7 linked regions of the Homo sapiens genome follow. The protein of the gene in region 3 interacts with the protein of the main gene of each other region in a biochemical or structural test. Each region holds a gene or a part of one and is shown on either strand. Other genes may lie near its edges.

Region 1 (3,500 bases), on a different chromosome or scaffold from region 3:
AAACTGCTAAACCTGTTTCAAAGTTACAAAAATATAAATACTATGTTAAACTCATTTAGATTTTATTCCTCTGCTTTAAAGAAAACAGAAATACAACAAAACCCTTCCCTAGAACCATTAACATACTTACAGACTGATGAATAAAAGGCAGATCTTGTGTAGCTGCTAATCTACTAGAGAAACCTGTGCTCCCATCTGGGATGCCAAAATTCAATGGTTCTCTCTTCTTAATAACAATCTGAAAGATTAATTGAAAAAGAATTATAGGGATCTTTTACAAATCACTACATAAAAATAGACAACCAAAACATTTTCTAATTACTTAAAATATTTCTTCTTAAAATTTATAATGTAAAAACTAAAAAAAAAGTCTGTAAATACCAATTTCCCAGGGAATTGTTGTACAAATCAGTTACATACTAAGAAAAATTGTATTTCACTTTTAAAAATTAATACAGGCCCATTTTCTTTCTTTCTATCCTACTTTCCCCAGACCTCAAAATATAATCAATCACTTTTAGTTACTGTATTAAATAACAACAGGTATCATATCCTGCCAATAGTATTAACAACTCTCTCAGCATGTGAGATACCTATGAATACATTAACTCATTCAGGCCAGTAGCATCAAAATACACTTATATGATATGTTGGTAGCCTCATTTAAAGCATTTCCATTCTAACTAATTTAATAAGGCACTATAGCAATATACTAGGTTCCTACTGAGAGCAGCAGTATACTTCCACAATGCAAGGTATTCATCTATTAAGAAACTCACTTAAAGGATCCTTTAAAAATACACAATTTAATGTGTTTTAGCATTGAGACATTTGGACAACTCAACAACAAAGAATGTAAATGTTATCAACCTAGACAATGTAAATATAAATGTATAGCTGAAATCAGCTGAGAGAAAGAAGGTGAGGAACAACTGTATTAGAAAATGTGAAATAATGTCCTAATTTTTATGAAGTGTGTATGTGTGTGTGTTTATATATATATATGATAAAAATATTTTCTATGTTTGAATAAGAAAGTGAACTTTAAGTGTGTTTTTCTGATATAGCAGAGTGATTAGTGAGGTAGACTGGAATAAAGGAGAGGGAATGGTAGTAAGAAATAAATCTTCATTTACCATAGTATGAATGTCAGTGGACAATGTCTGTTACTGGTAAACAAGAAATGGCAATATAACCATATAGATAGATACGATGACAAACACTTGAAGAAATCCAAACAGAAAATTATTGAGTGGCTGTTTCTTGGAAGAACTGGCTAAGAGTGATGGGTCAGAAGTCTCACTTTTCATTATAAGTTCTTCTACAGTTTTTGATTTAAAAAAAGTACATGTACTATTTTGATAAATAAAAACGAAAATACTCAAGCATTCTGTTTTTTCCAGTAATTCCCTGCATCTCTAAATGATCTTCCATATTCAATTCAAAAGGGATTAAATAATGTATGGATGACTAACACAAACTCACAATTACTCTTAAGTTCTTAGAGTCCTGCATCAGTTTTATAATGGTTACAAACAATAAACTCTACCTATCAGTTTGTAGATATTACTGAAGTACAAACTTGTTAGAACTCTTATCCAATTCACCTTAGTCTCCATGGCAGAGACTGGAGTCTAGAATCTGACATATAGTAGGATTTCGATACATATATAAATATAATTTTAAAAGACTTGGGGTACAACTTACTAGAACTATGTCTAGGTCATTTGAACATATAAAATTCTTACTTAACATGACAGAAAACAAACAACTGATAATTAGAAATATGCTGATAGACTGGATTAAGAAAATGTGGCACATATACACCATAGAATACTATGCAGCCATAAAAAAGGATGAGTTCATGTCCTCCATAGGGACATGGATGAAGATGGAAACCATCATTCTCAGCAAACTATCGCAAGGACAAAAAACCAAACACTGCATGTTGTCACTCATAGGTGGGAACTGAACAATGAGAACACATGGACATAGGAAGGGGAACATCATACACTGGGGCCTGTTGTGGGGTTGGGGGAGAGGGGAGGGATAGCATTAGGGACATACCTAATGTTAAATGACGAGTTGATGGGTGCAGCACACCAACATGGCACATGTATACATATGTAACTAACCTGCATGTTGTGCACATGTACCCTAAAACTTAAAGTATTAAAAAAAAAAAAAGAAATAGGCTTTCTAATAAATGTGAATTGTATCACCTAATTTTAACTATAGGAATCTAAAAAGTAGTTTAATCTCCAAAAGCATAAATCTTAACATACTTTCTGAGTTTTCCTAATAGTTGGTGTCATGTCCTTAAAATAGTCAGGTTCCAGTTGTTCCAAAGAATTTTGTTGTGTTGCCACATTCCCATTCCCTCCTTCGATCTTTACACTGGTGGGTGCATCTTCATCCCAGGAAGTCCACTCTTCAACATCTGTCTAAATTTAATTGATCAACATTATCAGCCACAAAGGGGCAACTTAATGAACACATCATTGATGATTTATTAGAAAAATGGGCTTTCTAAAACACTGGTTTTCAAACTTTTTTAACCCACGGGAAAACATACATTTCATATCACAGATCAAAACTTGATCAAAAGTTCAAAAAATACAAGACATTCTGATATATTCTGTTCTATTTTATTCTATTATGTCCATCAAAAAACAAAAAACAAAGTAAAACGAAAGCAAATGCTCTGAAAACTGAACTGACATTAAAACTACAACTCACAGAAGGGCTGGACATTTTCACCCAAGCCTATCCAGATTGATCATCTGATAAAAAATACCAAGCTTCTCCACAGGATTTAAATAAGATGAAGTCTCAAAACATAGTATTCAAAATGTTCATGAAACAACCCAGAATTATTCAGCATATAAAAACAATACATCTAAATTTGCAAGGCAAGTTAATCAACAGATACCAACACCAAAATGATATGTTGGAATTCTCTAAGGCTTTAAAATAGCTATTATAAAAATGCTCCAACAAACAATAGCAAACACTTGAAACCAATGAAAACACAATAGAAAATGTCAACAAAGAAACAGAAGATAAAATGTAGAACCAAATAGAATTTTCAGACCAGATAAATTTAACAACACAACAAAAATTAATTTCTATTAATGATCTGCAATCCAGTTTTTAAAATATTGTTCTAGGACACTTATTCAATCTTTCAAAACAAAACAAAACAAAAGAACACACAAAAAAAACCTACCTGCTTAGGAACTGATGAATAATCAACTGTAGTTGGCAAAGTTATTTGGTCTCCACTTAATTTCCGTCCTCTGCCAGATCTGAAACAAAAATGAAATAATTTATTTCAAGAACCACCAAAACAAGCAAAGTAAAAGCACTATTATGTATGGTAATTGAAGGCTTATAAAACAAGATCTTTCTCAATTTTATGATTATTGATTTTAGTAACAGTTACTCACTAATTTATGGTAAAAAAAAGTCATAAATCAGACATCCTGTGAATGTTTTTT
Region 2 (3,500 bases), on a different chromosome or scaffold from region 3:
GGGCTTCATCTCTCCTTCAGGACCCCAAGGAATTATTTTATTTTGCAAAAAAATTTCAAATCAGATGCCTTTGCCACAGCCCATGCTGGTGTATGAGCTACCACTGGCTGCCGGGGTGCCTGGCTGCCGGCGCCTGCTGCAGGCAAGAGTTTGCATGTTCTTTAAAAAGCTGGGTTCTTTTTCGGGGGTGGGGGGTGGGGGGGCTCTTTTGTTTGTTGCCAGCCAGAAACAACAGAAATGAACCGGCGAGGGTAAGACACAAGATGGACAAAGTCCTTTCCAGAAGGGGCTCGTGTGAGGCTTCTCCCTACACCCCTCAAAGCTTAAGCAGTTTAAATGCTCGCTTTATTGTGAAAAGATTGACAAACCCAGTGCCTGCAGAGTAATGGTTTGATTTTAGATAATCAGCAACAAGAGGACTCAGGGACTACAGCAAAGTCATGGGTTCTGTGGCCAGCCAGGCTCTCCTGTTCAGTGGGGCTGCAAACCAGCTATCTCCCAGACTCAGGGGCCTACAGGGACAGGACCCCTGCTGCTGCCTGGAGAGCACTCACAGGAGCACTCACAGGAGGAATAACCACCTGCAAGGCTTGCAAGGCACCACGGAGGCATCTGTCCATCCCACAGGACACTCCCAGAGCGCAGGGGAGCCACCAGTGAGGGAGCTGGGAGTTAGGGAGCGGGGAGTTAGGGAGTAGGGAGTTGGGGGGGAGTTAGGGAGGGGGGAATTGGGGAGGGGAGTTAGGAAGAGGGGAGTTAGGGAGAGGGGAGTTAGTGAGTGGGGAGTTAGGGAGGGGGAGTTAGGGAGAGGGGAGTTAGGGAGGGGAGTTAGGGAGGGGAGTTAGGGAGAGGGGAGTTAGGGAGAGGAGTTGGGGGGGAGTTAGGGAGGGGTGTTAGGGAGAGGGGGGTTAGGGAGAGGGGAGTTAGGGAGAGGGAGGTTAGGGAGGGGAGTTAGGGAGAGGAGAGTTAGGGAGAGGGGAGCTAGGGAGAGGACAGTTAGGGAGAGGAGTTAGGGAGGGGGGAGTTAGGGAGGGGAGTTAGGGAGAGGGGAGTTAGGGAGAGGGAGGTTAGGGAGGGGAGTTAGGGAGAGGGGGGTTAGGGAGAGGGGGGTTAGGGAGAAGGGAGTTAGGGAGGGGAGTTAGGGAGAGGGGAGTTAGGGAGGGGGGAGTTAGGGAGAGGAGTTAAGGAGAGGGGAGTTAGGGAGGGGAGTTAGGGAGAGGGGAGTTAGGGAGGGGGGAGTTAGGGAGAGGGGGGTTAGGGAGAAGGGAGTTAGGGAGGGGAGTTAGGGAGAGGGGAGTTAGGGAGGGGGGAGTTAGGGAGAGGAGTTAAGGAGAGGGGAGTTAGGGAGGGGAGTTAGGGAGAGGGGAGTTAGGGAGAGGGGAGCTGGGGGGGAGTTATGGAGCAAGGAGTTAGGGAGGGGGGAGTTAGGGAGATGGGAGTTAGGGAGAGGGGGGTTAGGGAGAGGGGAGTTAGGGAGGGGAGTTAGGGAGAAGGGAGTTAGGGAGAGGGGAGCTAGGGAGAGGGGGGTTAGGGAAGGGGGAGTTAGGGAGGGGAGTTAGGGAGGGGAGTTAGGGAGAGGGGATTTAGGGAGGGGGGAGTTAGGGAGAGGAGTTAAGGAGAGGGGAGTTAGGGAGGGGAGTTAGGGAGAGGGGAGCTGGGGGGGAGTTATGGAGCAAGGAGTTAGGGAGGGGGGAGTTAGGGAGATGGGAGTTAGGGAGAGGGGGGTTAGGGAGAGGGGAGTTAGGGAGGGGAGTTAGGGAGAAGGGAGTTAGGGAGAGGGGAGCTAGGGAGAGGGGGGTTAGGGAAGGGGGAGTTAGGGAGGGGAGTTAGGGAGAGGGGGGTTAGGGAGAAGGGAGTTAGGGAGAGGGGATTTAGGGAGGGGGGAGTTAGGGAGAGGAGTTAAGGAGAGGGGAGTTAGGGAAGGGAGTTAGGGAGAGGGGAGTTAGGGAGAAGGGAGTTAGGGAGGGGGGAGTTAGGGAGGTGAGAGTTAAAGAGCGAGGAGTTAGGGAGCGGGGAGTTAGGGAAACTGTGCTTTTCTCTGTGCACACCCAGGAGGCGTCTCCCTGCTGCTGCCCTTTCCCAGGAGAAGGGCTCAGGGGCCACCTACCTCCCGAGGCCATCCCCAGGCCTGCCGCTGCACTCTGAGCAAGGCTATAATGAAGGGAGTGGCGACTCCCTGGACAGCAGACAGCCAAGAGGGTTTGTTTCTCCAGCTTCCTGCAGGAGTGGAATAGGACAGGTGGCAGAACCAGCAGGTTTACTGAGGGCTGCCAGGCTCCTCCCTTTCAGGATCCAGGCAGGGCAGGAAGCCACATCATCCTGTTAAGAGGCCGCCACATCCTAGCCCCCACCTCCTTGGAAGGGACGGGTAGGCAGGTGGCAGGTGCGCCAACCCCTTATCTCTGGAGAAGAGCTACCTTCCTTTCCCTTCCCACACCCAGAGAGCAGGCAGGCAGGCCTCAGAGTGCCCACTGTGTTCACTGCCATGGTAAAGAGCAAACCCCACTGACCTACAGACTCTTCAGCACAGCCAAGGCAGAAGCCAAGGCCTTCACACACTCATGCTAACAGCGCCTGAGAGAACACGGGTGGCGCATCTCAAAGAAACACTTATTAATGCCTGCTATGGGCCAGACTCCTTGAAAACGTTACCTGATTCCTGCTTTGGCACTTGCAAGGCTAACTATTGTACCTGCAAATTCCACGGCAAATCTCCTCGGGGGTGGGCAGTACAAGGAAACCAGAAAGGAAGAAGGTCACAGGGAGTCTGGTTAGGCCATCCTGCCTCCACAGACAGCACGCTCCTTAAAGGTCAAGCTCAGGATCTGACTGACTTCTGCACCTGTCCCCGCCCCTAGTATCCAGCACACGGCAGGCAGCAGGCACCGTCCTGTGGGACAGAAGCCTCACACGGGCCATGGCTCCATTCTCATGCCTCTTCCAGCTTCTGGAGGCACCCACATTCCCTGCCTGGTGGCCCCTCCTCCCCCTCCAAAGCCCGCCCACTGCACTTCCCCAAGGCTCTTGGCCATCATCTCCCTCCGGCTCTTCTGCTTCCCTCTTCTGTTCTTAAGGACCCTGTGATTACACTGGGCTCCCTGGGAAAATCCAGGATCATCTCACTACTTTAAGGCCGGCTGATCAGCAACCTTAATTCCCCTTTGCCATGTAATGTAACATATTCACAGGCTCAGAAGGTAGGACGTGGACATCTCGGGGAGCTGTTCCTCCACCAATCACAGGAGGAAGAGGGGAAAGAGCCTCCAGGTTTTTCCAAGGGCCAGGACCAGTCACTGTCTATGGTGTGGGCGCACAGCTTCAGAACCCTCTACGGTTTGCAGTTACTGCCTTGTAAAGAGGCTGTGTCTGCTTAATTTGTATCATCGATGTTACACCTGGAGGAATTTTAGCCAAAAGGCGACCTTCTCAGTTGAAAGGCACATTCCAAATGGCACCACACATCTGGGAAGGTGTCCTTTTCCAGAGTGTGTGAAAATAAC
Region 3 (3,500 bases):
AGGGTGCGCCTATAGTCCCAGCTATTCAGGAGACTGAGGAGGGAGGATTGCTTGAGTTCAGGAGGTCGAGGTTGCAATGAGCCATGATCACACCACCACACTCCAGTCTGGAAGACAAAGCTAGGCCCTGTCTCAAAAGAAAAAAAGTACAATCAAATAGTTTAATGAACTTCAAAAGTAATTTCTGAGATCCTGTATATCTCATACCTGTGTTTAAACACCTGAAAAAAATAGATAAAAATTCAAAACTTCAAAAAATATGAAGGAAATATCATTTGTCTTAGAAACAACGAAAATTCATTAAAAACTCAGAAGCCTTTATTATATTTTAAATTACTAAAACTCAGCACATCTGGAAATTCTGAATACTTGTTGACTGAATTTCTGATTTACAGATTTGATATGTAGAGATGGTGGACATCACCACACGTATAGAAAGGAAAACAATTTTTGTTAAGTTATACATCTTCATCACTATTATACTTCAAAGTAGTGACCTTGGGAACCTTATTCCAAAAATGGAAAACATCTTTGGAGCCTGTGTAAAAGCCACACAAAAGTCAGTTCTATCATTTTGGTTAATCTTAAGTATTTTACCCCATTACATATTATTTACCTCAAGTACCTACTTATTTTTCAAGACATAGAGTTAAGTTACTGTATTACAGTTCTTGTCTACAAGCATTAGAAACATTAGTAACTGACTCTGGCTATCTTTAAAAAGCAACTTTACTGGAAGGCTGTTGAAACTCACAACACTGAAAGATGACTGGAAAATCAGACTGGAAAAAAACAGTGCCAACAGACCAGAGAAAGCAGCTCAAAGAACCATGCCAAAGAACAGTCTGATCCACACGCTGACATGACTCTGGAAAGGTCTCCAAAAAACCCTACAGCTCGTTATTCTCTCAAGATCCAAAGCCCTGAAAGAAAACATATGATTGGACAAGTCTGGCTGCATGACAAAACAGCAGGGGAATAATATGCTTCAAGAGTGCATCCTAGAGCCGGTCGCAGTAATCCCAACACTTTGGGAGGCTGAGGCGGGAGGATCACTTGAGGCCAGGAGTTCGAGGCTGCAGTGAGCTATGATCTCGCCACTGTACTCTAGCCTGGCGACACAGCACAATCTGTCTTAAAACAAAAACCAAAAAACACAACAACAAAAAAAAAAACAGGTGCGGTGGCTCATGCCTCTAATACCTGCACTTTGGGAGACTGAAGCGGGAGGATCACTTGATCCCAGGAGTTCAAGACCAGCCTGAGCCATGTGGTGAAATCCCTGTCTTTATAAAAAAAAAATTTTTTTTTAATTAGCTGGGCATGGTGGTGTGTGCCTGTGGTCCTAGCTCCTCGGGAAGCTGAGGCAGGAGGATCACTTTAGCCCAAGAGGTTGAGGCTGCAGTGAGCCAAGATCGCACCACTGCACTCCAGCCTGGGTGACAAAGAAAGACCCTGTCTCAAAAACAGGCAACACACTATGGGGAAACCCTAAAGTAATACAAAATAAAGCGAAGACCTGGGGAGGAGTTAATAAACATCCACAGCAGTACAATCAGAACCATCATATGGAATGACTACTTTTCCATTATACATGAAAACACTGAAGCTCAGAAGGCTTAAATTATATGTAAAAGCCAAAGAATACACTTTGGACAGGACTATAGAGCCTCTCTCTGCTTCTGCTGTTCCATAGGCATACTCCAAATTATACTTGGCCACTGAAAATAATTAAATCTAACCTTAAAAGACTAAGATTTGCCACCAATGAAGACATTCAAACATATATGACACCAGTTATTTGTGGTAATTCTCAATAAAGCATCCTGAAAATATTCTATGGAAAGCATCTATAGAATAAACACACACAGGGAAAGGAAAATACCTGGCACTTTTGCTGTCCCTCCCCCTCAAACACTGGGTCAATTAAAGAAATACTGCTAATTACTTGGCAGTTGAATTTAGGTGTAAACTATCTGCCATCCTTACTGTGGTCTTTAAAGAGTTACTTAAATACTTATGCACTGATTCTCTGCCCAAGTGAGCATGAAAATCTTCTGAGGGGACTAGCCATCCCTGTTTTATAAAAGCAAAAAACAAATATCATTGGTTAAAAAAAAAAAATCTGAAATGTGTAAAGAAAAAAAAAAAAATCAATCACAATGACTTTAGACTCACTCCTAACAGGTAATCTGAAGCCAGACCATCTGCTTATTCAAAAACTGAACCTTCTGTTCAGCAAAAAAGAGAGGGAGACTTGACTCAGAATATGTCAAAGTAATTTTTTAAATATTATAGATTATAAACATGTTAAAAATAAATTGGTAAGACAATAAGAACAAAGGACAATCTCACACGATATGGATGAATCTCACATTGAACAAAAAGCAGACACAAAGTACAAAAAACTAGGCAAAATTAATCTATGCTGAATTCTAATATTAAGCCAGTGGTTACCCCTGAGGAATGGGTAGTGACTGGAAAGATACTCAAGTGGAGGGCTAGGGCTTCTGTTTCTTGCTCTAGGTACTGGTTTAACAAGTATATTCACATAAGGTTATTAGCTCACATATATAAAATATTTCCAACATTAATGATTTGCTTAAATGTAAAGTTTAGCTTTTAAAGTTCTTAGGAGAATCCAGACATTAAAAAGATAAATGCTGAAGTAAAAATCAGTTAAAGCAATGAGTTAGCATAAACGCCTGGGCTCAGGGTAAGACAGCAATTCCTGCCTCCTAAAAAGAGTACTATAGGTTAAAAACATGGTGGCGAGCCTCCCAAGGGAAAAACATACCAACAGATAAGTTGACAGGGCTGGTTATTAGAGTGTAAAGACATGATGAGTTGGCTTGATGGCATGCACCTTGTATTCCCAGCTACTCAGGGCGGATCACTTGAGCCCAGGAGTTTGAGTGCAGCCTGGGCAACATCTTGAGACCTCCATCTCTTAAAAAAAAAAATTTTAAAGATGTGATGAAAGGAAAAAATATATAGGCTAATCCCTAAAACCAAAACCTAAAGCAATACAAAATCCCAGTAGTCTCAACCCCACCCCTCAACTCTCTGGACTTGCCTAAAAAAAAAGAGAAAAAATTTCCCCATGTGGTTGCTGAAATCAGGAAGAAATGCTCACAATAAGCTAGCAAGCATCTGGACCTTAGCCATGACTAGCAAAGTATAATGAGTGACTCTTGATGCAAAATAAACAGAACACATGGTTTCAATTACCCGCCAAATAACTTTAAATTGTTTAAATTATGTGAGTATGGTTAAACTTCAACAAATTATTTAGATTATCTTCTTAAGACCCAATCACCGAAAAACAGCATGTTAATATGCTTCACCTTAAACATTTAGAGCAAGGGTGTCCAACCTTTTGGCTTCCCTGGGCCACACTGGAAGAACTGTCTTGGGCCATATATAAAATACACTAACACTAGCAATAGCTGATGAGCTTTAAAAAAAAAAAATTGCAAAAAAAATTTCATAATGTTTTA
Region 4 (3,500 bases), on a different chromosome or scaffold from region 3:
AGGATGACAAGTCTTGCTTATCAAAATCTAAGAACCAAAATGATCAATAAGAGGGAAGACACTGTCTTTATTACCAAATCTAAAAGTATTTATGCTTTCCCTTATCTTCTTCACTTGTGTAAATGTAATCAACCAATCCTTTTATTTAAACTGATAGCACTGCAGCCTATTAACCAGCAGTTATTTACCAGGCAACAGGCACTGTGTTACGGTGGCAATTAAGGGTGAACCAAACAGTCTCCATTTAGCCATGGGCTTTTATTTTAGAAGAGCATGCAGTCACCAAACAAATAATTATGAATATGAAAAGTGTTAGTTACTAAGCAGTGGTGCAGGTCCCAGGGGATCATTTAGTAGGGGCCTTTCCTAGTCAGGAAGCAGATGGGGTGGAATTCAGGGAAAGATTCTTGAGAGATGTCTTTTACCCTACATCCAAAGGTTGGGAAGGGACAAACTGATATCCTATTAATGCAACCTCCACTCTGAGCACATCTGGTCCAAGTTCATCTTGTTTCCCTTTCCCAGCCATATTTTCTGTTCTCCTTGGCCTAGCCTCAAAATTACTCTTATCTTAGCAAGGTTTTCTAATGGATTTTAAAACTACTGGCAGGATTATCATCCTAAATCAAAAAAAAACGTGTTCCATGACCATGAACACTCATTTTCACCTTAAGTAAAATAACAGGCTTTATCTAAGATACCTTCCACTGCTAAAATATGTAACTAGAAAATGAACATTAGAGAAAAAAAGGAATCAATAAATGTGTGTGTTCTGACTGCTCCACCAACTAGCCATCCCCAGGGAACAGGGAGGCCTCTCCTCAGGCCTCCCTGTTCCCTGAGACACAACAATACTGAAATTAAGCCTATTAATCCTACTATGGCCTCTAAGTGTGCAAATGAAAACAGTTACAGGTATCTCATTTGAAATCAAAAGCTAGAAACAATAGGTAGGCATAGTGAGGAAGGCACATCTAAAACCGAGATAGGCAGAAAGCTAGGCTTCTTAACCCAAACAGCCAAGCTGTGAATGCAAGGGAAATATTATCAAAAGAAATCAGAAGTGCTACGCCAGTGAACACACAAATGTTAAGAAAGCAAAACAGCCTTACTGCTAATAGGGAGAATGTTTTAGTGATCTGGATAAAAGATCAAATCAGTCACAACATTCCCTTAAGCCAATACCCAATCCAGAACAAGAACCCAACTCTCCTCAATTCTATGAAGGCTCAGAGTTCAGAAGAAAAGTTTGAAGCTAGCAGAGGCTGGTTAATGCAGTTTAAGGAATGAATTCATCACCGTAAGATAAAAGCGCAAGGAGAAGCAGCAAGTGCTGATACAGAAACCATAGCAAATTATCCAGAAGATCTAGCTAAGATAATTAATGGAAGTGACTAATCAACAGATTTTCAATGTAGATGAAACAGCCTTCCCAATACAAAATGTAGATGAAACAGCCTTCCCAATACAAAATGTAGATGAAACAGCCTTCCCAATACAAAACAGTTTGTATTGCTAGTGGTCTGGTTTTTCTAATCTTTTCAAAAAACCAGCTCCTGGATTCATTGATTTTTTTAAGGGTTTTTCGTGTCTCTATCTCCTTCAGTTCTGCTCTGATTTTAGTTATTTCTTGTCTTCTGCTAGCTTTAGAATTTGTTTGTTGTTGCTTCTCCAGTTCTTTTAATTGTGATGTTAGGATGTCGATTTTACACCTTTCTCGTTTTCTCCTGTGGGCATTTAATGCTATAGATTTTCCTCTAAACACAGCTTTAGCTGTGTCCCATAGATTCTGATATGTTGTGTCTTTGTTCTCATTGGTTTCAAATAACTTATTTACTTCTGCCTTAATTTTATCATTTACCCAGTAGTCATTCTGGAGCAGGCTGTTCAGTTTCCATGTAGTTGTGCAATTTTGAGTGAGTTTCTTAATTCTGAATTCTAATTTGACTGCAATTAGAATTGTGGTCTGAGAGACTGTTATGATTTTCTTTTGCATTTGCTGAGGAGTGTTTTACTATTTTAGAATAAGTGCAATATGATGCTGAGAAGAATGTGTATTCTGTTGATTTGGGGTGGAGAGTTCTGTAGATGTCTATTAGGTCCACTTGGTCCAGAGCTGAGTTCAAGTCCTGAATATCTTTGCTAATTTTCTGTCTCGTTTGTCTAATATTGACAATGGGGTGTTAAAGTCTCCCACTATTATTGTGTGGGAGTCTAAGTCTCTTTGTAGGTCTCTAAGAACTTACTTTATGAAACTGGGTGTTCCTGATCCTGGGAGCATGTATATATAGTTAGCTCTTCTTGTTGCATTGATCCGTTTACCATTATGTAATGCCCTTGTCTTTTATGATCTTTGTTGGTTTAAAGTCTGTTTTATCAGAGACTAGGATTGCAACCCCTTTTGTTTTTTTTGTGTTTTTTTTGCTTTCCATTTGCTTGGTAAATGTTTCATGTGTGTCTTTGCATGTGAGATGGGTCTCCTGAATACAGCACACTGGTGGGTTCTAACTATCCAATTTGCCAGTCTGTGTCTTTTAATTGGGACATTTAGCCAATTTACATTTAAGGTTAATATTGTTATGTGTGAATTTGATCCTGTCATTATGATGCTAGCTGGTTATTTTGCTCATTAGTTGATGCTGTTTCTTCATAGTGTCAATCATCTTTACAATTGGTATGTTTTTGCAATGGCTTGTACTGTTTTTTCCTTTCCATATTCAGGGCTTCCTTCAGGAGGTCTTGTAAGGCAGGCCTGGTGGTGACAAAATCTCTCAGCATTTGCTTGTCTGGAAAGGATTTTATTTCTCCTTCGCTTATGAAGCTTAATTTGGCTGGATATGAAATTCTAGGTTGAAAATTCTTTCCTTTAAGAATGTTGAATATTGGTCCCCACTCTCTTCTGGCTTACAGGGTTTCTGCAGAGAGATCTGCTGTTAGTCTGATGGGCTTTCTCTATTTAAAAATTTTAAGTAACAATTCCAGACATTCATCAAAAGATATGCTTATCTTCATGCACCTCCTAAACACCTACTAAAACGGCATCTACAAATAATGAACCCCCTTCCAAATAGAGTGAAGAACCACTAAATTAGAGAAACATCTTTACTGACCTCTAGTAATTTCTAATTCATAATGAAATATATAGACTAGTCACTAAACTCTTAAAAGCACTGATGCTATAAGAAACGTAGAGAGCATCCACAAGCACTAAAAATGCAAGAAACTTAAAAATTGGAAACGTGTACACACAAAAACACAGTATTTTAACTTGTTTTTTATTACTGATAAGCACAAAACAAATTCCAAATGCTGAAATAACCTAATAATCTACCTAGATCAAAATCAAATATTTTATGTGATCAATAAAGGAAATGTAAAATCCAAGAAATTTAGAGTTTAACTGTACCTCAATTGTAAATCCAGTTCAATCTTATTAGTACAGTGTTAAACGATTTACCTAAAGTCACACAGGTAGTAAGAAGCAAATTTAGGCCAAGCTA
Region 5 (3,500 bases), on a different chromosome or scaffold from region 3:
ATTTCAGTGGACTATAATTACAAAACAGGAATCACTGAAGTACAAGGAGGATAGAAATCAGACTTCTGAACTGAGCCAGCAACATCTAAATGACTGGAAATGAGTAGGATGAAATTAATATGGGGCCAAACTGGAGTCTATTACACCCCCATATACACCTAAGTTGCATTTTAAAACAAAGTCATCAGTACAATTTTCATTACAAATAGATGTCAACTAAGGACACCTTATATAAACTCCTCATTGCAATCAAATAATTTATATGGTAAAAGATCTGAAGAACTGTTGCTTTGTAATTTTTTAAAATCTCATATCTGCTATGCTTCATAATAACCTGTTAAGATAATAAGAGGAACCTCTGGTTGCCAGGCACTTAATACCCTATTTATTTTAACTAAACTCATTTTGCATCTTGCTTCCCTCATTTTAACTAAACTCAGGATAAGGCTTACAACCACATTTTTATTTCTTAGTAGTGAAACCACCATTGCAAAATTATAACTGAAATGGTGAAAAAGATCTGACCTAACCAACTCCATCTTGCTTCTAACCTCCAGGTTGTCCTTGTTCATTCCTGGGCATAGGCCATAACTTTGGGAGGAACTTAGTTTATAGTTTAAAACAAAGATGGTAACAGCCCTTTCCCAAAACAAACCTCCTTCTTGCCTGGGGACTAGACTGCCTTTGTAGGACTAACAAATTAGCCACAAGATTGGAAATTAGGGCTTAGGAGTCATGCAGCTGAAAGCTACCAGATTCTGACCCTTACCATCTGTGGCGTCATAGATTCAATGAAACATCATATGTTCTTTGAACCTCTTACTACAGGGTTACCTATAGCATGCACACCAGAATTACTAGTGTGTTTTTTAAAATGCAAACTCCTGAGCCAACTGCATACCTGGAGAATCAGAATCCCTAGGAGTGGGATTAAAGCTCTTGCATGTTTAATAAGCTCCCCAGATGACTGTCATTCGTGCTCAGATCTGAGAGCTTCAGATCTACAGCACACCAATCCACACACACAGGAAAGGCTGTGTGGGGCGGGGGGGGGGGGGGGGGGGAAGGTAAGGCAGATCTAAACCAAAAAAGTTCAAAAGTAAAATTCACATGACAAGATTTTTCATTCTTTCTGGAACAGTCAACCTGCCACCAGAATGGGTCTTCAGTTTTGGTGGGCAACAGATAAATCCAGAGAAAATGTGGTGAGGAATAAATAATCAAGAACTCCTGTTTGCAGGGGTTAAACCAGAGTACTAGATTTAATATTACTCAAATGTTTTCTTGCAGTTTTTATTATCTACCAAAGCAGAATTTTGCTTAAAAAGTTATAATCCACTTAACGAAATGAAATGGTGACTGGATTTCTGCAACCAAGACCACAAACATACCCAAAACAGAAAACAAGACAGAACTCTACAAAATGACATTCAGTTTTGCCTGCTATGAGTTCTACAATTGTTTAAACACTTGTGATCTAAGCTACCTTAATCCTATAGTACACCATCCAGGGAGAGATGGATAGATGAATGAATGGATGGACAGAAAGAAATAGCTATTCTTAGAAACAATGACAACAATAAAATGAAATATATTAACTGTTAGAGGTTGAACATAAATGGGGTAATGAAGTGTCCCACTCATAAACTGCTAAAATGAGATTAGAGAAAGGTACACATTTACATACAGTAGAACTGCTATCTTCATCTCATGTAACTATCTCACATTGTACTAGATGAGAAGTTATAGGTTCCTGTTCTACGTGTTTAAGAATTCCCTTAGGTATCCACTCTACTTATGCTGTTTTGAAGTAGTCTGCAGAATTTAAGTGCACCAGGGTAGACATAATTCCATCAGTCACACCCTCCAAATGAAGACATGGAGAAACAGAATGGTTCCATCGCCCAAGGGTCCTGGATGAAATGCAGTATTGGCACACCATTTGTACCACAAAAACTGAATGAGAATTAGCACTGCTGAAGTAAATTAAAATGGAAACCATGCCTGAAGAATCCCCGAGCAGACAAAACCAATTAGGCCTCATAAGTGACATCAACCTCACTTGATTTGCAAACATAAGCAAAATATGAAGTTACTTCTTATAAATGCCTATGCTAAAGAAAAAGAGAACTTAAGCTTAATCAATCAGAAACATCCAACAAACTTCTAATTACATATCTAGGGGACCTTCCAACACGACAGACCAAATAAAACAACTGTATAACTGCAGCCAATCAAATATTTTCTTTGCTTTACATCTGTGACCCTCCTATAAAAGCCTCCCTCCTGGATTCCCCTGGTGGAGCTCCCAGATCTGGTTTGGAGCTGCTCAATTCATGAATTGTTTGTTCAAATAAACTCTAAAGATGCTTCTATTGTAAAATTTTGTGAAAACGTATTGTATTAGTCCGTTTTTGCACTGTTATAAAGAAATACCCAAGACTGGGTAACCTATAAAGGAAAGAAGTTTAACTGACTCACAGTCCCACATGGCTGGGGAGGTGTCAGGAAACTTACAATCATGGAGGAAGGCTAAGGGGAAACAGACACCTTTTTCACAAGGCAGCAGGAGAGAGAAGAGAGAGAGTGCAGGAAAAACTTCCATTTGTAAAACCATCAGATCTTGTAAGAACTCACTGTCACGAGAACAACATGGGGGAAGCCGCCCTCATGATGCAATCACTTCCCTCCCTCGACACACAGGGATTACAATTTGAGATGAGATTTGAGTGGGGACGCAGAACCAAACCACACCACGTATCAACTGAACCAACTTAAAAATCCATTTTTGTTGACCTTGCGTCTTTCAAAACTCATTTAACAATCACTTAACTGCAAGTAATGAATGATATGTTAGGTAGCACACCTGACACCATAACACTACCTTAGCAAGCCTTGTAGAGATTATGACGAAAATCAATTTAGAGATGTTCATATAACTTTCTGAATAGCACACAAAAATTTAACAAATGAATAAACAAAATGCAGTACGTATCAACGAAATGATATATATGTAATGTGGTGTATATGAATGGAATATAGAATGGAATATTACTCACCCTTAAAAAGGAATGAAGTACTGATACCTGCTGATTTAGAGGACGAACCTCTAAAACATGCTAAGTGAAAGAAGCCAGACACAAAAGAACACATATTGAATTATTCAATTTTTAGGAAAATCCAGAATAGATAAATTTATGGGGGCAGAAAGCAGATCAGTGGTTGCCGAGGATTGGCAGGGAGAAGGGAATGAACAACTGCTTAATGAATATGGGGTTTCCTTTTGGGGTGATGAAAATGTTTTAGAAACGTGACGGTTCATAACATCATGAACGTGCTAAATGCCACACTTTAAAATGGAAAATCTGGCTAGGCATAGGGGCTCATGTCTGTAATCCCAGAGCTTTGGGAGGCTGAGGTCGAAGGATCACCTGAGGGCAGATTTGGCCAGCCTGTGCAAAATAGTAAGATCCCGTCTTTTAAGAAAAAAAATTATAAAA
Region 6 (2,637 bases), on a different chromosome or scaffold from region 3:
AGGTTGCAGTGAGCCAAGATCACACCATTGCACTCCAGCCTGGGCGACAAGAGTGAAACGCTCTCAAAAAAACATACAAACAAACAAAAAAACAAGTTGTTTTAAGTCACTCAGTTTGGGGCTGCTTGGTTGGGCCGCAAGAGATGAGTGGAACAATGAATGAGACTGGATGTCCTCTGCTACCCAATGACTGGCAACCATGAGCTTCCTGGGTCTGTAATTCCATCAGCTGTCCATCCCTTACCCTGGAAGGGTAGAGGATTTATTCTTTGGGTAGACATAGTTTAAGAGTTTTTTTGTTTTTGTTTTTTGTTTTCAATGAAAAATTGCCAAGCCCTTTGGAGGCCCTGATGGCTCAACCAGGTTGGTGGCTGCTAACGAGAGTGAAGATCTATATTCAGTCCATCTGGCACATGTGCAGAAGACCCTTCTCCAACCCCAGATCATGACTACAAATGGCTATCAGTTGGACAAACATACATCCTGATGAGAAGATATGGTTGGTTCATCACAACCTTTTATTTCACAATATTAATAGTAATCATTATAGCTACCATGTATTAAGCCTTCACCATGGGGCTGTTAAGTCTTCATTGCTTAGCTTTACTAAACTAGATAATGTGTTTGCTTATCTCATGGATTTCTCTTAACCATCCCCTGAGATCCCCCTATAGTTCTTATCCCTTTACCCCCATTTTACAGAAGAGGAAAACTGAGGCTCAGAGAAGGGGAGTCACTTGGCCACAGTCGCACAGTTGGAAAGTGGTAGAGCCAGGATGAGACGCTAATTCTGACTCCAAAGCTAGTTATATATAATAATAGCACCCAAGTAATGTATAGATTACCATGTTTTCACATATGGCAAATTAAGGAATCAGAATGAATGATGCATGCTGCCCAAGCTGGACAGAGGATGGGCCAGGGCACAAGTGACGGCTGACCCACTGATCCATGGAACCCCCAAGAAAGGCTCTAGAACAAAGCTCTGATTTCACAGTGAGATTAAAATTCTGCCCAAATCAGGGTACATGGGTGGAATTAATCAAAAAAGTTAGTATGTATGCCTTTCACCCCAGCAATTCTACTTCTCATTTTGCAGAGACTCACTCATACAGTGGCATCAAGAGGTTATATGTGCAGGAGAACGTCCACTGCAGCTTTGCCAGTAGCGATGAAAACTGCTAACAGCCTAAGGGCCTAGCCAAAGTGGAATGCTCAAAAAAGATGGTTTGCTCTAGAACAGGCAGCTGGTAAAAGGAGTGGTGTTAGATCAGCACATGTTCACATCAGAAATGCTCCAGGAGCCAGGTGCGGTGGCTCACGCCTGTAAACCCAACTCTTTGAGAGGCTGAGGAAGGATTGCTTGAGCCCAGGAGTTTGAGACCAGCCTGGGCAACATAGTGATTCCCCTCTTTACAAAAAATAAAAAGTTAGGTAGGTGTCATGGTCCAGCTACTCAGGAGGCTGAGGTGAAAGGACTGCTTGAGCCCAGGAGTTAGAGGTTGCAGTGAGCTGTGTTTGCAGGAGTTAGAGGTTGCAGTGAGCTGTGTTTGCAGGAGTTAGAGGTTGCAGTGAGCTGTGTTTGCAGGAGTTAGAGGTTGCAGTGAGCTGTGTTTGCAGGAGTTAGAGGTTGCAGTGAGCTGTGTTTGTGCCACTGCACTGCAGCCTGAGCAACCAAGCGGGACTCTGTCTCCAAAACAAACAAACAAACAATCCTCCAGAGCAATCTGTTAAATTACATTTTGGAATAACCTATTCAAAATGGTTTTTTCCATACGTCTTTAAGATGATAATATTTATATGTTCAAAAATTTAAAGTCTGGAAGACTATGTACAAACAGAAAATGGTAGCATTACCTTTAGGAGCTATTGAGAGGAAGTACAAATAGAGCCACTTGCCTTCTTACTATCAATTCTGATTGTCCCATGTTTTATAATATATTCATGTAGTACTCTAAACAAAATCTTTTCAGATCAAATCAGGGGAGATGAAATGAGAGTGGATTCTGAGCCTAGTTTTTTTCAGGGAACAAGACCCAGTGCTACCACTTAGGGGCTAGAAACAGAAATTGTATTTATTTTATTTTGTTTTATTTATTTTATTTTTGAGATGGAGTCTCACTCTGTTGCCCAGGCTGGAGTGTACTAGCATGATCTTGGTTCACTGCAACCTCTGCCTCCTGGGTTCAAGCAATTCTCCTGCCTCAGCCTCCCAAGTAGCTGCAACTACAGGCATGCGCCACGACGCCCAGCTAATTTTTGTATTTTTAGTAGATGGGGTTTCGCCACGTTGGCCAGGCTGGTCTGGAACTCCTGACCTCAGCTTATCTGCCCACCTCAGCCTCCCAAAGTGCTGGGATTACAAGCATGAGCCACCGGGCCCGGCCTCTTTATTTTCTTTCAGTGTTTTCCCAGGAAGTTCTCTGAACATCCAGGGTCTTCACAGATGGACTTCTCATAAAAGGTAACTCCTGGAACCAGACATAAATTTTTTTTTTGGGGTGTGTGGTGATGGGATACATAGCTGTCGCCAGATTCTCAAAGGGACAGTGTCACACTTAACAGAGCAAGGAGAGTAATCGGTGATTGGTGAATGATCATTTATCAGAGACTGTGTGTCAAACATTTAAAAAATAA
Region 7 (4,285 bases), on a different chromosome or scaffold from region 3:
GCCTGGAACATCATAATAGGTACTCAATGAATTTTTGTTAAACAAGTGAATAACTACCAACCATTTATAGAAAGCTAGATATTTTGACAGGTAGAATGCTAAGCACTTTATATACATTATCTCATGTAAACCTCTCAACAAACCTATGAGGGAAATATCACTGTCCCCAATATATAGATGAGAACATTGAGGCACAGAGGAGTTAATTTGTCATAGCCAGTAAATAGATTAGACCCCAGCACTGAGCCAATGACAGTGAACTGAATTCAACTTGTGTTGGTTACAATCCTCCAATTTCGGAATATCAGACTCCCATTTTTTCTCCCAGGAAATGAAACTACCTTCCCAAGCTCCCTTTCTGTGCTATATCCAGCTCTCATACTTTCCAGCCTCAGATATAGGTTTTCCAGCATTCCTAATGACAAATTCCTTGAGTGAAGGATCCACACCTCATTCTTACTTCATTGTCATCTATAGTGATGGCAGTATGTCAGAACCATTCTTCAGTAAATGCTGGCTGAAAGAGTAGATGATGAATGGGGGCTCAGGTGGGTGTTTGTAAGGTTCTAAAGGAAGTTAATATCTAGTATCAATTTTACTTACACAAGAAGAAATCATATGAGCATTTACTGGCTTTAATGCTTTATCTTGTGACCACTGAACAGACCTTTTAGAGCAGGTGTTGGCAAATCAGGCAGTAAATATTTTAGGTTTTGTGGGTCATAAGGTCTCTGTCACAACTATCCAACTCTGCTGTTCTTTCATGGTAGCAGCCATAGACAATATGTAAATGATGACTATGTTGCAGTAAAACTTTGTTTACGATCATCAAATTTTGAATTCATATAATTTTCGTAGCCCTGAAATATTCTTCCATTTTTAACCATGAAATATTGCAAAAAACATTCTTAGCTTGTGGGCTGTACAAGAACAGGCAGCAAACTGTAGTTGCTAACCTGTGGCCTAGACAGGCAAACCTAGGATTAGAAGCACTGAGTAAGGCCGTACAATTGTGTGCTGAAAACCCATTCAGAAGGGAAAGTCCAAGGTGGAATGTAGGAGGCTGTTACTTTTCTTTTGACCCCCACATTTTTCCTCCCTCGGATCATTCCGTATCTTTTTCCTATTTGCTTTGCCGGGATTGTTCTCAATCAATGTGCATACTTTCTCATACCTCAGGCGTTATGTCTCTCGTGGCCGTTTGTGTTTAAATTGAGGGTTTGGGGAAGACTGAAAAACATTCAAGACCCAAAGTAACAGCTTTCTCATGAAGCGTTTACACGCATTGAGAGATATCGTTCCATTGGTGTGAATAAGTCTCTATGTACACACCTGATGAAATATAATGCTGGCTTCTAGTCCCCTCACAAAAGAAACAGGCTTCCTGTTTGCGTGACTTGGGGGCGACTCCTGCTTTTCCCTGGCTGCCCATCAGTTGGCGCCTTTTGCCGTCCTTTTTCCCCAAGCCGCTTTGGGGGCCGCGGTCTCTCCGCAGCTCGCGGGTCACATGGCCCGCCTGAGCAAGGGGAGCCCTGCGCCTGAGCTGCGAGGCGGGAGGAGGTGAGGCTCCGGCGCACACCCAAACCGCGCTGCGCCCGCTCCTTCCGGGCCCCGGAGATGGCGCCTCCACCGGGATGAGCTAGCCAGCCTGGGCAATACCAGAGGCGGCCCTCGGCGCGCGCAGGGGACCGAGCTGGTCGCCCCAACCGGGTAGGTTTCTGTTGCGCACGATCTGCCCAGCCCTTCTGGCGCGGTGGTCGGAGCCCTGGACACTAGAGCGAGGGGACAAGGATTAGGGGTGGCCACAGCTGGCACAAGCAGGGCAGCTGGGGGTTGGGGAGAGTCATCGCAGAGGGCCTGTGCCCCGGGCAGTGCGCCTCGGGCAGGCGGGTTGCCTAGCGGCCCTGCCCGCAGCTCCGACCGCTTCCTGCCGGAGGATTGCGAGGACCCCGCAGGGGTCCCCAGGGCAGCAGGGGCCCGCATCAGTGCGGGGATGGTTGAGTGTCTCGGGGGCGCCTCCCTGGCCCTTGCCTGCGCCAGCTGCGCTGACAGGTCAATAGAAGGACGCGAGCGGGGCGCGTGCCAGTCTGGGTAAGACCCTCGCCGAGCCTAGCAGGGCCGAAGCGCCAAGGGGCCTGGCGCCTAATGGCCGCCCGCAAGCAGGGGACCCTCGCGGCGCGTCCACACCTTAGGTTCGCCGGGCGCGCCGAGAGCGCGGCAGCAGTGTTGGGTTTCTGCGGGCGACCTCGCAGCCAAGGGCTGGGGGAGGGCGACTGGGCAGAGGAAGGCGTCCCTCCCAGGACCAGGAAAAACCAGCAGAAGGGAAGGAGCGCAGCGATGGAGACGGTCAGCTCGGCCTACGGGTGGGAAACTGAGGCTCAAGCGTGGCAGGGACTGCCCAAGGTCAGCGACAGACACTAGATCCAGGGCCCTGGACATCGTCCCCCATTCTTTTTCCAAGAGGGAGGGTTAATTAGATCCACCTGGGTGTGTCTCGCCCTCTTTCTGGCCCTTGGCTCCGGCGTCGCTAGTGTCGCACTGCGCTCGCGGTGTCTTGGGGCGTGAGCTCCTGCAGGGTCGTTGTGACCCGCATCCTCTGCTCGGCCCAGGCTCTCTCCGGGGGACCGCAGGGCGGCTCCAATGATGATCTCACCATGCGGACCATTAGCAACACATGCGGGTGTGTGTGCGCGTGCATGTGTGTGTTTCTCCTTCTATAGGGGAAATAGCTTTTTTTTTTAGGGGTGAATTTCTAGAATGCACTGCACTAGGTACTTTATGAGGTGAGAAGAGAAAATCAACATTATTAGAATTATTAGAATGTTGTAAGGATACACATATTAGAAAACATCCAGTAAACAAAAATCCAAAGGAGAAGCAAAATAAAAATAACTTAAAACTTCAACTTCTAGATGGTTTAGATTTTCTGCATATCTTAAAATTTTCTCTATGTATACACATTTGAAGTTTTAAATCAAAAGCGTGGACCAAAAAATGGTATCTTGTCTTAATTTGCATGTCTTTGATTACCCATGGGAATTAACACTTTTTCCTCTGTGTAGTAGCCTTTTGCATTTCTGTAGGTGAGTTGATTGTTAATTCTTCTGCCCATTTTTCAGTTGGAGTATCTTTCTCCTCCTGACTTTTAAACACTTTATGTGTATTACACATTGAAGTAGTAATTCTTTGTCACGTGTTGCACTATAGCGAGTATTTTCTGTTAATTTTTACTAGTTCTAATTCCAAATGATCTTTTGGATACTTTGGTCAATTTTTTATTTTGATGGTTATATGGGCGTATAAATTTGACAAAACTCATCGAAATATATATATATTTAAGTGGTGCATTGTACTGTATGTAAACTGCACCTCAATAAAATTAATTTTTAAAGGCCTAGAAAATTATCATCCTGGGTAATGAGAGAGAATTTGCCTAGTCAGATATTAAAACCTGTTATAAAGCTTTCATAATGAAAATAACATGGCCCTGGCACCACAATGCAGAGAGAGATAGATGCCAAAATCCACAAACAGATATATATATACATCATTTAATTTATTATAGCTATAGCAACTTAAATCACAAATTTAAAAATGGACTTAACAGGTGCCCTGACTGTCATGTTCACCTTCCCAGTGTCTAACACAAGACTCAGTGTTGAATCAAATGCTTAATTATGATTATAAAAGTAATGATCTTTGCAGAAGTGTAGATATCAAAACAGGAAATTGCCATCCCCATACCCTTCTTTTCTCCTTCACTAAATTATACTCCACATTAAAAATAAAATGGTCATATCTCTGTACATTTTTCTGTAATTTGCACTGATATAGTTTGCATTTCTCCCTTCTGGTCTTAGTCTACTTGAGCTGCTGTAACACATTCTCAAAGACTAGGTGGCTTAAACAACAGACACATTTATCTCTCAAAATTCTGAAAGCTGGAAGTTCCAGATCAGGGTGCCAGCATGGTCAAGTTTTGGTGAGGGCTCTCTTTCCGGTTTACATGTGAGAAAGCAGAGAAGAGAAGTGATCTCTCCTGTCTTTTCTTATAAGGACACTAATAAAGAACATGCATTACTGAGGTCTGCACCCTTATGACCTGATTACCTTCCAAAGACCCCATCTCCAAATACCATCATATTGGAGATTAGGATTTATAACACGAATTTTGGCTGGGCAGGAGGAGGACAAACATTCAGTCCAAAGCACAAACCTAGCTAAGATTTCTTTTATGTCAACATATTTAAACCTTTCTCTTCTTAACATTTCCACAGCATACCCT

The links.
Region 1: the proteins of GOLPH3 (region 3) and EBAG9 form a complex in vitro, tested with the Homo sapiens proteins (one study listed by BioGRID).
Region 2: the proteins of GOLPH3 (region 3) and CANT1 form a complex in vitro, tested with the Homo sapiens proteins (one study listed by BioGRID).
Region 4: the proteins of GOLPH3 (region 3) and DIPK2A form a complex in vitro, tested with the Homo sapiens proteins (one study listed by BioGRID).
Region 5: the proteins of GOLPH3 (region 3) and FAM3C form a complex in vitro, tested with the Homo sapiens proteins (one study listed by BioGRID).
Region 6: the proteins of GOLPH3 (region 3) and TPST2 form a complex in vitro, tested with the Homo sapiens proteins (one study listed by BioGRID).
Region 7: the proteins of GOLPH3 (region 3) and PGAP4 form a complex in vitro, tested with the Homo sapiens proteins (one study listed by BioGRID).

Annotation. Positions count from the first base shown.
Region 1 is NC_000008.11:109,553,673-109,557,172, reverse strand, and holds part of EBAG9 (receptor-binding cancer antigen expressed on SiSo cells), read right to left. Parts: intron 3,309-3,500; coding exon 3,230-3,308; intron 2,445-3,229; coding exon 2,286-2,444; intron 239-2,285; coding exon 131-238; intron 1-130. UniProt on the Homo sapiens protein: May participate in suppression of cell proliferation and induces apoptotic cell death through activation of interleukin-1-beta converting enzyme (ICE)-like proteases.
Region 2 is NC_000017.11:79,003,265-79,006,764, forward strand, and holds part of CANT1 (soluble calcium-activated nucleotidase 1), read right to left. Parts: intron 1-3,500.
Region 3 is NC_000005.10:32,167,820-32,171,319, forward strand, and holds part of GOLPH3 (Golgi phosphoprotein 3), read right to left. Parts: intron 1-3,500. UniProt on the Homo sapiens protein: Phosphatidylinositol-4-phosphate-binding protein that links Golgi membranes to the cytoskeleton and may participate in the tensile force required for vesicle budding from the Golgi.
Region 4 is NC_000003.12:143,981,823-143,985,322, reverse strand, and holds part of DIPK2A (divergent protein kinase domain 2A isoform a precursor), read right to left. Parts: intron 1-3,500. UniProt on the Homo sapiens protein: May play a role in cardiomyocyte proliferation through paracrine signaling and activation of the PPI3K-AKT-CDK7 signaling cascade.
Region 5 is NC_000007.14:121,389,809-121,393,308, forward strand, and holds part of FAM3C (protein FAM3C precursor), read right to left. Parts: intron 3,120-3,500; exon of another isoform or gene 3,060-3,119; intron 1,554-3,059; exon of another isoform or gene 1-1,553. UniProt on the Homo sapiens protein: May be involved in retinal laminar formation. Promotes epithelial to mesenchymal transition.
Region 6 is NC_000022.11:26,521,496-26,524,132, forward strand, and holds the end of TPST2 (protein-tyrosine sulfotransferase 2), read right to left. Parts: 3' UTR 501-2,637; downstream 1-500. UniProt on the Homo sapiens protein: Catalyzes the O-sulfation of tyrosine residues within acidic motifs of polypeptides, using 3'-phosphoadenylyl sulfate (PAPS) as cosubstrate.
Region 7 is NC_000009.12:101,484,374-101,488,658, reverse strand, and holds the start of PGAP4 (GPI-N-acetylgalactosamine transferase PGAP4), read left to right. Parts: upstream 1-1,485; 5' UTR 1,486-1,710; intron 1,711-1,888; exon of another isoform or gene 1,889-2,091; intron 2,092-2,190; exon of another isoform or gene 2,191-2,403; intron 2,404-4,285. UniProt on the Homo sapiens protein: Golgi-resident glycosylphosphatidylinositol (GPI)-N-acetylgalactosamine transferase that catalyzes the N-acetyl-beta-D-galactosamine transfer from an UDP-N-acetyl-alpha-D-galactosamine to the 4-OH-position of the first mannose of the glycosylphosphatidylinositol (GPI) of a GPI-anchored protein (GPI-AP).